Homo sapiens: one gene and its partners. The protein of the gene in region 3 purifies or fractionates together with the protein of the main gene of each other region. This does not show direct contact. Each region holds a gene or a part of one and is shown on either strand. Other genes may lie near its edges.

Region 1 (3,653 bases), on a different chromosome or scaffold from region 3:
TTTGGTGTATTTCCTACAAACAAGGACCTTTTCTAGCATAACCACAATACAACCATCAAAATTAGAAAATTGACGCTGATAATTTTGCTGCTGTTCAGTGTTCAGATAATCTTCAGGGTATTGTTTATTTGTTTGTTTTTTGAGACAGAGTTTCACTCCTGTTGCCCAGGCTGGATTACAGTTCAGTCTTCCAAGTTTTGCCACTTGATGTCTTTCAGAGCAAAAGGATCTGTTTCAGAACCATACCACCTTGTATCTAGTTGTTTACCTTAGCCTCCTTCATCTGTAACAGTTTCCCAGGCTTTAACTGACTCCCACAACCTTGACAGCTTTGACAGTTACAGGAGAGTTATTTTGTAGAATGCCCCTTAGCTTGGATTTGTCTGATGTTTCCTCATTCAGGTCATTCGGGTTGTGTACCTTTGGCAGGAATATCACAAAAGTGATGCTGTATTCTCCGTGCATCTGGTCAGATACCACATAGTACCAGTTGTCCCATTACTGATAATGTCCAGTTTGATCACTTGATTAATGTGTGTCTAACAGGTTTTCTACTGAAAAGTTACTCATGTAATTAATGGTGTTTCATGATTTGTATTGACATACGTATACTTACATATTCTGTTCCCCATCCCACTATCAATGTATTCATTTATTTATATCTGTGGACTTGTTTCCTATATATTCATTCAGTTTAAATCCATATTCTCTTTATTTTGATGCCCAAGTTGTCCCAGATTGATCAGCGGGAGCCCCCTTGGAGCAGGCTTCTGTGTCTTTGACACGTCTCCAATATTCTCTAAGTTCTGCTTTCCTTCTGCCACAACAAGAGGTTCCAGCCTCATTTTACACTTTCTTTGCCGCAACCCTGGTATCAGCCATTTCTCCAAAAAGCTGTTTCCTTTTAGTGAAGAATGATATTTAGAAGTCAGGTTCTGGGCTCATGGTTCTTGGAGTGTGTCTGCTCCCTGGTCCTCTCAGTGGACATGGTGAGAAAATAGATATATTTATGTACATCTATATTTATTTATATCTATATAGATAGAAGTTCACACTAGTACCTGCAGTGTATTTGCAGTACTGCAGGGTTCAGCCTAGCTCTCTTTCTCTCCATAGTTGACTCTTGTTTCCTATTGTAACTCTCTTCTCTTTAATATACTCATTTATTTCATCAATTTCCTGTGTGTAACTAAGGTCCCGTCACCACTATCACCTCCCCACCCAGCTGCCCTCCTTAGCACCCTCAGGATCAGACTCCCTATGCCAGGCCACCCACCGCACCCCACTTGTTTAGACATTCAGCTCTAGGCCACTGCAGCCCCTCCCTGCCCCCAGCATGGACACAGCTAATGGCTTAGGACTGAATTGTTCCTGAAAAAGAAGAAATATTTTTTCCTTTTTTACAACATACCATAGCATTTCATTTGATTTTGTTTTAATGTTTTGTGCTTATTTTTCTGAAAAGATTTTTTTAGCTTCTTGAAAACTGAAACTGTTTTTTCCACATTTTGTGCCCCCACCATGAGTAGCATAGTACGGGCCATATGTCAGGTATTTGAGTACCTCTGGTTAAATTGACTTTTTTTTTGGTGTCGATATGTTTTTGTCTCCTTAAGAGTTAGAGAAGGAACGGCAGCGACACATCGGCAAGCCTTTACTTGGGGGACCGTTTTCCCTCACAACTCATACTGGGGAGCGTAAAACTGACAAGGACTACTTGGGTCAGTGGTTATTGATTTATTTTGGCTTCACTCATTGCCCTGATGTCTGTCCAGAAGAACTAGAAAAGATGATTCAAGTCGTGGATGAAATAGGTAAGAAAGCCATCACTAACTAAACAAAGTATATGTTTACTTCATGTTACCAGGTTTTTCACACCCTTGTATTATTGTTAGGTGGGGTTTTGCAATTATGTGATTTGTAAGAACATAAAATCTCAGCATTTGGCTTGTTTGTTGCTTTGAATCTTGTGACCTTATTCTCCACTGAAAGAAGCTTGTTTTGATGTTAAATGTTAGATCACTTAAAAATGTCAGTGTGGTCTCCCTTAACTCTACTTTTGTGTCCCTTCCTTTGCATCACTGATGCTGCCATTGCCTCTTCCCCACTGATTGTGACAATTAAATTAGGAAATCTTTGCAATGGTCTGCAGTCTGTGGCATTTTACTAGTACTAGTAAGAAGGAAGGGTGCCTCCTCCATACAGTGAATTATTTCAGGATATTCAGCTCTTATTAACAATTTACCTTCTTGCCCTTGAGATATGGTGGGAGTGAAAAAAACTACAGATACTGGAGTGGATTCAGAGATAAGATAGCCACATGACATTATCCAGGGGAAGAACATTTATGTGCTGGTGCAGGCATTTGATAGGATATGTAACCTTGTATTATCCACCACAGATAATACTACTGTATATGGGTCTCCTCCTCCTAAAGGCCATCCCTTCTCCATCCCCTTCCCCGTCCTCTTCCTCTTCACCTGAATGTTAAGATGTCCATCTGCTTTCAAAACACCTAGCTGTCCAGCACGTCCTATACTCTCCTGTTATTGCTGGTTTTCTTTGTCTTTTCCCTTAGGGTGTGAATACGGACTAATTGGAACTCTCTTTCAGATAGCATTACAACTCTGCCAGATCTAACTCCACTTTTCATCAGCATTGACCCAGAGAGGGACACAAAAGAAGCCATCGCAAATTATGTGAAAGGTATTTTTTTAAATAATACTTTACATTTATTTAGCCTTAAAGTTTTTGGAATATCAGTTCATTTGAACCTTACAGTGCCTTGTGAAATAGGACAAATGGTATTATCACCAGTTTTATGGGTGAATAAAAAGGTGAAGCTAGGAATTGTTATGGATAGTTAGTGCGTAAGTAAGAAATGGGTTTCTCAATTCCTGATGCAGTGCTCTTTATATTTTGTCACAGAGAAAGGATTTGAACTTGGCCTTCATGTATCAACTAAGTTAATCGAGCCTTGAATTGAGAGTAAGGACACATTGCTTCTAACTCCAGCGCTGTAACTCATTCTCTGCATTGTAAAATCAGAACAAACATATATTCTGGAAGTATGTTCATTGGTAGATTAAAGATGAATAATTAAATACAAACATATTTTGAACTCAGTGCATGTTTTATAAATTTAAAACATTTACTGTAACAGGCCGGGCATGGTGGGCCTGTAATCCCAGCACTTTGGGAGACCAAAGTGGGTGGATCACCTGAGGTCAGGAGTTTGAGACCAGCCTGGCCAACATGGTGAAGCCCCGTCTCTACTAAAAATACAAAAATTAGCCAGGCACGGTGGTGCACACCTATAATCCCAGATATTCGGGAGGCTGAGGCAGGAGAATTCGCGTGAACCTGGCAGGCGGAGGTAGCAGTGAGCTGACATCACGCCACTGATCTTCAGCCTGGGCAACAGAGCTAGACTCTGTCTTAAAGATAAATAAAACATTTACTATGACAAAGTAACTGTTGTTTAATTGACACATAACAGTTGTACATATTTATGGGGTACAGAGTCCCTATCCTCCCCAACCCTTTCCAGCCTCTAGTATCCACAATTCTTCTCTCTACTTCTGTGAGATCAACTTTTTTAGTTTCCACGTATGAATATGCAGTATTTATCTTTCTGTGCCTGACTTTTTTCA
Region 2 (3,653 bases), on a different chromosome or scaffold from region 3:
TATAATAAGATCTCAAAGAAAAAAAGGATGCTTAGAAAAAAATAAATAGAAATATCCCAATATTAACAGCTATCAGGAGTAACATTATAAGTGACTTCCCCCTCTTCCTACACTTCTATAGTTTCTAATTTTTATAAACTTAATACAATCAGAAGAAAACAACTAACATAAAACTCACTAAAAGCACTATATTTTGTTTTAATACAACCTAAAATATATTTCAGAACATTTTTTTTGACAGTCTTGCTCTGTCACCCAGGCTGAAGTACAGTGGCATGATCTTGGCTCACTGCAACTTCCACCTCCCGAGTTCAAGCAATTCTCCTGCCTTAGCCTCCCAAGTAGCTGGGACTACAGGCACCCGCCACCACCATGCCCCACTAATTTTTATATTTTTAGTAGAGATGGGGTTTCGCCATGTTGGCCTGGCTAATTTTGAACTCCTGACCTCAAGTGATCTGCCCACCTCGGCCTCCCAAAGTGCTGGGATTACAGGTGTGAGCCACCATGCCAGCCATTTCAGAACAGTTATAAAGGTATTTAAGAAAAAAGGTGATTTCTCGACACTGTCAAGCTGCTAATACATTTCAGAAAGCACAGAATTCTGAAATTTACCCTACTCCTCTACAAATAGGTGCAGAAACAAATACATGACCAAGACACACTGTGTCACACAGCAGTCACTGTAAATGGATAAGTGCCCCTTTTATGAAGCAGATAGAAGTAGAAGTTGCACCTTGATCAGGGATATTTCTCATTAAGAGAATAAATGAAGTATTCCTTACCTTTAATATAAGGTATGTGCTGGAACACCTCTTCAGCCAGGTGAGGAAGAATGGGAGCAAAAGAACGAACTATTACATCCAAAATTTCAACTAATGCAGTCTGACAAGAGCGTCGTTTGGGGTCATTTTCCTTTTCACAATAGAGCCTGAACAAGAACAACTTATTCAGCAGTTGACAATACTTTATACATTATGGTCACCTAGATGGGACCTGCCTCAGGTTGAGTTTATTCCTAGTGGCTAATCCTATGGCTCTAATCATCTTCTACTTAAAGAATACAATACACTCTCCTACAATTTTACTCCGTCCAGGTGTACCCACCTCCTTGAAAGCACTCATGGCTACGCTATCTCATTCTGTTTCTCAGGTGGATGACAACTAGAGTCTAGACTACTGTATTAAAGGACTATGAATAAGTTAGTTGATGGTATTTAACATGTGGCTCCCACCCACTCCAATGTTATTAGTGTTTTAAGGGAAGGAGTAGGAGTTATAATCCCTATGTGCAAGGTCCTTGGGGTGCTGACAGGCTGAGGATAACGCCTCAGACTGGACTCATTACCATGAAGGTAGGACCGTCACCTGCACACTGGAGCAACAGATGAAGACTTGGCATCAAGGCCTCTTCTACAAGGATACTGCTAATATTATACACTGTTACCATATAATTGCACATATATATCTCTCTCTTCCCCTCAGGATTTGAGAACTCCTGAGAACAAGCATTATGTTCATCGTCTGATATTAGTAGTGATGATTTTTTGAACACTTTATCAAGCACAGCTTTAAGCACATTATTGCTTTTCCTTCTCAATCACGAGGTAAGTATTATTATACCCATTTTACAGATGAAGAAACAGATTACAGAATAAGTTGCCCCAAATCAGAAAGCTAGTAAGCGGGAGGTCAAACCTTTATACTCAGACTTGACTCCGGAACCCAATCTTTTTTTTTTTTTTTTTTTGAGACGGAGTCTTGCTCTGTCGCCCAGGCTGAAGTGCAGTGTCACGATCTCGGCTCACTGCAAGCTCTGCCTCCCGGGTTCACGCCATTCTCCTGCCTCAGCCTCCCAAGTAGCTGGAACTACAGGCACCCGCCACCACGCCCAGCTAATTTTTTGTATTTTTAGTAGAGACGGGGTTTCACTGTGTTAGCCAGGATGGTCTCGATCTCCTGACCTCGTGATCCGCCCGCCTCGGCCTCCCAAAGTGCTGGGATTACAGGCGTGAGGCACCACGCCTGGCCCGGAACCCAATCTTAATAACTGCACAACACTGCCCATCTTGCTCATCACTGTATCCCTGACGGTTGCCAAACACAAGTAGACACTCAAAAAATACTTGTTGAGGTTTTGTTGTTGTTATTTTTTGAGACGAGATCTTGCTCTGTCACCCAGGCTGGAGTGCAGCAGCACAATCTCTGCTCATTGCAACCTCCGCCTCCCAAGTTCAAGCGATTCTCGTGCCTCAGTCTCCTGAGTGACTCGGATTACAGGCATGTGCCACCATGCCCGGCTAATTTTTGTATTTTGCCATACTGGTCTCGAACTCCTGGCCTCATGTCATCCACCCGCCTCGGCCTCCCAAAGTGCTGGGATTACAGGCGTGAGTCACCACACCTGGCCATTGTTAAGCATTTTAATATTTAGTCATACATACCTATCTTTGATTATACTGAAATAAAAGTTAGAGAGCTCTCTGGTATAAAACGTCCGTAACAGCCGAACAACTTTTCCAAAATCATATTGTTTGTATAATTCGGTAATCTAGGGAACAAAGCCAAAATAAATTTGGAAGCTGAGACAGGCAAATGAAAATGTAAGTCATCACAAGCAAAATATGCTCCTTTCAAAAATATGTTTCAATGAGACAAATACAAAACAGGCAATATGCAAGAACTCCTGGGAATCTTCCAAATGTCATTTCTGGATAACACATTTGACTACACTCAGAAAATACTATTTTACTCTGAGAACTACGAAAGGACATTAATTAAGGAAAGAATGAGATTGTAAATAACAAAATCACACCATTTTAACAACAGCAAACAGTGGACGTCACCAACAATTCATTAGTGTTCCTTCATTTATGCCTCATTTATTTTTGATTTGGGCAAAATTGGTATGTACACCTCTGACTTAAGGGTACACTAATGCAAACACATTTCCAATTATGAGAAAACACAATTTTTTTTTTTTAAGACAGGGTCTCACTCTGTCAACCAGGCTGGAGTGCAGTGGCACAATCACAGCTCACTGCAGCCTCAAAACCATGGGCTCAAGCGATTCTCCTGCCTCAGCCTCCCAAGGAGCTGGGACTACATGCACTGGCTAACACGCCTGGCTAATTTTTAAAATTTTTCTAGAGATAGGTTCCTGCTCTGTTGCCCAGGCTGGTCTTGAACACCTGGCCTCAAGCAATCCTCCCACCTCGGCCTCCCAAAGTAGTAGGATTTATAGGTGTGAGTTTCCACACCCAGCCAGAAAACAGAAATTATTTAAGTCTATATGAAAATGAGTAAGTATCTTATGAGACAAATAGGATAGTCCATTTTGGTTATTTCTGTACTTTATTATGAGGAGCACATGTGCAGATAAAGTATAACTCCACTTTATTCCTTCTTGTTGGAAAAATAGAGCTAATCATGAGAGAAAAATCTGGTCCGAGGGGAAGTCTGGACATATTTCTCTTCAAGAGTGCTATAGTTACTATTTCCAGCAAGGTCTGTTCCACTCAGATAAAACTAAAATTTTAACCTACAATAGTGCTGATATTTCTAGTTTCCAAAAGTTTATTAATTTACATTTACCTTGTTTGCCAAATCCTGCAGTAAGTGTAGCATGTACTGGTCTATGACATACATATCGT
Region 3 (3,653 bases):
TGCAGACCAAGCATGGGGATCTGGGCCAGCAGGTGGGTCTAGGTGTGCCAATGGGAGTGGGCACATACCCAGGCCACAGGAAATCAAATCAAGAGGGTGTGTGTGTGTGTGCACGCGTGTGTGCACGCAGGCATGGGCTTTCAGGGCTTTCAGAGCAGGGGCCGACGGCATTCTCCCTCGGGCCAGCGGTCAGATGTGGGGTTCAGGAAACAAGGCCCAGGTGGGGATGAATCACAGGGCTGTGATTCTAGAAGGGACAGCTGTGAGGGGCCGGGACAGGCTAAGCTGGAGGACTCACCAGACTTGCGGGGGTCAACACGCTCCAGATGTCTCCTAGACCTCTCACACTCAGCACATCCAAACCTGAACCCAGCACCTGGCCCCACACCTGTCCCCTGGCTAGAGACGGGGGCCTCAGCCCAGCTGTTCCCCTTCTCCCACAGCCTCTCAGCTGCGTGTCGGGTCCATTCTGCATCTTGAACATCTCTCCCAGTGGATTCCCTTCTGCTGTCCTGGTCCAGGATCCATCCCAGCTCTGACCAACGTTCTCCTCCCTGACCTCCTGAATAGGAGGAATACAGCCTGTCTATCCCCTTCTGAGTGCCTATCACAACCAGGAATAGTGGCTATCCAGTTACCTGTCTGCAATCAGTCTCCCCACTGTCCTGTAAGCCTCACAAGGGTGGGGCCCAGGGCTGTCACAGTCACTGCTGTGTCCCCAGCACTGCCCAGTGCCAGGCCAGGCACACGCATGATGCTCATTAGATCTAAGCTTAACACATAAGTGAGTCCCGCCTCCAGCCTCCTTCCCACCTGCCGGCCCCAGCCTCACCCCTCTGCAATTGTCCCCCACGCAGCAATCAGAAGGAATTGGTGAGAAGAAAAGAACAAACTGGCTGGGCGCGGTAGCTCAGGCCTTTAATCCCAGCGCTTTGGGAGGCTGAGACAGGCAGATCATGAGGTAAGGAGTTCAAGACCAGCCTGGCCAACATGGTGAAACCCATCTCCAGTAAAAATACAAAAAATTAGCGGGGCGTGGTGGGAGGCCCCTGTAATCCCACCTACTCGGGAGGCTGAGACAGGAGAATCGCTTGAACCCAGGAGGTGGAGGTTGCCGTGAGCCAAGACCACGCCACTGCACTCCAGCCTGGGCAACAAGAGCAAGACTGTCTCAAAAAAAGAAAAGAAAAGAACAAACCTACCATTCCCCGTCGCCCCACCCCCAACTCCTGCCGCAAATAAAAGTAACACATGGCAAGAAAACAAAGTACTCAAACTATAAAATGTAAAGCCAAAGTCCCCTCCTCAGAGGAACCCTCAACTACTGCGGTCGCCAGCCTGTTTTCCCCTAGCGCCATCTCCTGGACAGCCCATAGTAAGCATACCTCACTCATTTCTGAGCTCTTCAACTGGAGGTTTGTTCAGATCTACGCCATCGTTACCTACTCATAATCCAGCCCCACTATGAAAGGTGAGCACTCTGCCCCCATGCGGCCTGCCCTTTCTCCGCTCCCCCATTTCTACAGGGGATTTGTATGCAGTTTTTATTATTCTATGTTCTGCTGTTTTTTTTTTTTATTTTTTTTAGACGGAGTCTCGCTTTGTCCCCAAGGCTGGAGTGCAGTGGCATGATCTCCGCTCTGCAATGCAGTGGCCATGGAAACACTCTCCAGTGTGGTGTGACTAAGGCAGAGAGGAGACCCTCTGAGTGCTGCTTCATGAGACTTTGGTGCTTTTTTTTTTGATACAGAGTCTTGCTCTTGTTGCCCAGGCTGGAGTGCAGTGGCTTGATCTTGGCTCACTGCAACCTCTGCCTCCCGGGTTCGAGTGATTCTCCTGCCTGAGCCTCCCAAGTAGCTGGGATTACAGGCGCCCACCACCATGTCCGACTAATTTTTGTATTTTTAGTAGAGACGGGATTTCACCATGTTGGCCAGGCTGGTCTCAAACTCCTGACCTCAAGTGATCCATTCACCTTGGCCTCCCAAAGTACTGGGACTACAGGTGTGAGCCACCGTGTCTGGCCTAACTCCAACTTCATGAGAGATCTTAACCTATAATTTTCCTTTTCTGTAATGACTTTATCAGGCTTTGATATCAGTATTCTATTGGACTCATAAAATGAGTAAGTCAGTATTCCTACTTTCTCTATTACTTAAAAGAATATGGACAATGGTCTTTCTTTCTTTCTTTTCTTTTCTTTCTTTCTCTTCTCTCTCTTCTTTCCCTCTTTTTCTTTCTTTTTTTTTTTTTTTTTTTTTTGAGATGGAGTCTCGCCATGCTGTCCCAGGTGGACTGTAGTGGCACAATCTCGGCTCACTGCAACCTCCGCTTCCCGGGTTCAAGTGATTCTCTCACCTCAGCCTCCCATGTAGCTGGGACTACAGGCACATACCACCACACCTGGCTAATTTTTGTATATTTTGGTAGAGACAGGGTTTCACCATGTTGACCAGGCTGGTCTCGAACTCCTGACCTCACGTGATCCACCCGCCTCAGCCTCCCAAAGTGCTGGGATTACAGGTGTGAGCCACCGCACCTGGCCCCCTCCATTTCTCTCTTCCTGTCTTTTCCCAATTCTTCTTTTAGATCTCAGCTGGACTGTCCCTTCCTCCAGGAAGCCCTCCCTGAACCATAGGCTGGGTCAGACACATTCTCAAGGTTCTCAAAGCTCCCTGGGCTTAACACGAGGCCGGCCTTAATAAATGGCAGCAAGACCTTTGGAGTCGCACAGACCTGGACTCAAATCCTGGTTCTGTCACTTTCTGGATTCGCAAGCTGAGCCTTGGTGTTTCCTTATCAAAACTGGGGGTCAAAATACTCAACTGACAGGATTGGGAGAATGGCAATGACAGAGTAAGGGAGAAAATGCTCAGTTTGTAAATGTTAACCTAATATCCTCTTCCTGACTTCTGTCAGGAATTTTATTCCTGGAAGTACATCCTACCCACTGGTGTGAATCTACTCTTGGGTTACATAGAATCGTTTTCCGTCTCCTCCCTGAACTCTCTCCCTCCAGACTCACTCCCTTTCATCTGTCTTCCATACCGGAGAATCCCAACTCAGATGTCCCCTCCTCCAGGAAGCCTTCCCTGACCTCCAGACCCCTGGGATCCTCTATCTGAGCTCTGACTGCTCTGGGTCCTCACTGCATGGTGACAAGTCTGTCTCTCCAACTGGACTGTGAGGCCGATGCAGGCAGGACCTGAGGCTAACTCGGTCACTGCACTGTCCCCAGCCCCAGATAGGCACAGAGCAGGCACTTAATGAAAAAGCTGATCTGTGGAGGTGCCCAGGAGGTGACCATGGACAATGGGTATGGCTCCTGTCTCTGGCTCCCCCATCTCCCTTCTCTCTCTCCTGATGCTTTTGGTGTTATCTGTCCCCTCGAGAATGTGGCACTGTGCATTGCCCCTCCTCCTGGATTTCCTGGATTGGCTCCAGGCCCCCTCTACACATCTGTCTCTGATATAGACCCTTTCCTCGGCCTCAGTGGCTGTCATTTCTCAGGGCACCATTTCCTAAGCCCTTTTCTCACTCGACTGTCACATCTACTTCCAGGGGCCACTCAGAACTTCAGGACCCAAACTCCTATGCTCAGATCTCTCTCAGCCCCGGAGCTCCAGGCCACAGGCACTTCAGACACTCTAGGT

The links.
Region 1: the proteins of OPA3 (region 3) and SCO1 purify together in Homo sapiens (affinity purification with mass spectrometry; one large-scale study listed by BioGRID and IntAct). This does not show direct contact.
Region 2: the proteins of OPA3 (region 3) and IARS2 purify together in Homo sapiens (co-immunoprecipitation; one large-scale study listed by IntAct). This does not show direct contact.

Annotation. Positions count from the first base shown.
Region 1 is NC_000017.11:10,690,925-10,694,577, reverse strand, and holds part of SCO1 (protein SCO1 homolog, mitochondrial), read left to right. Parts: intron 1-1,616; coding exon 1,617-1,814; intron 1,815-2,613; coding exon 2,614-2,706; intron 2,707-3,653. UniProt on the Homo sapiens protein: Copper metallochaperone essential for the maturation of cytochrome c oxidase subunit II (MT-CO2/COX2). Not required for the synthesis of MT-CO2/COX2 but plays a crucial role in stabilizing MT-CO2/COX2 during its subsequent maturation.
Region 2 is NC_000001.11:220,139,081-220,142,733, reverse strand, and holds part of IARS2 (isoleucine--tRNA ligase, mitochondrial precursor), read right to left. Parts: coding exon 3,595-3,653; intron 2,552-3,594; coding exon 2,445-2,551; intron 932-2,444; coding exon 786-931; intron 1-785.
Region 3 is NC_000019.10:45,557,158-45,560,810, forward strand, and holds part of OPA3 (optic atrophy 3 protein), read right to left. Parts: intron 1-3,653. UniProt on the Homo sapiens protein: May play some role in mitochondrial processes.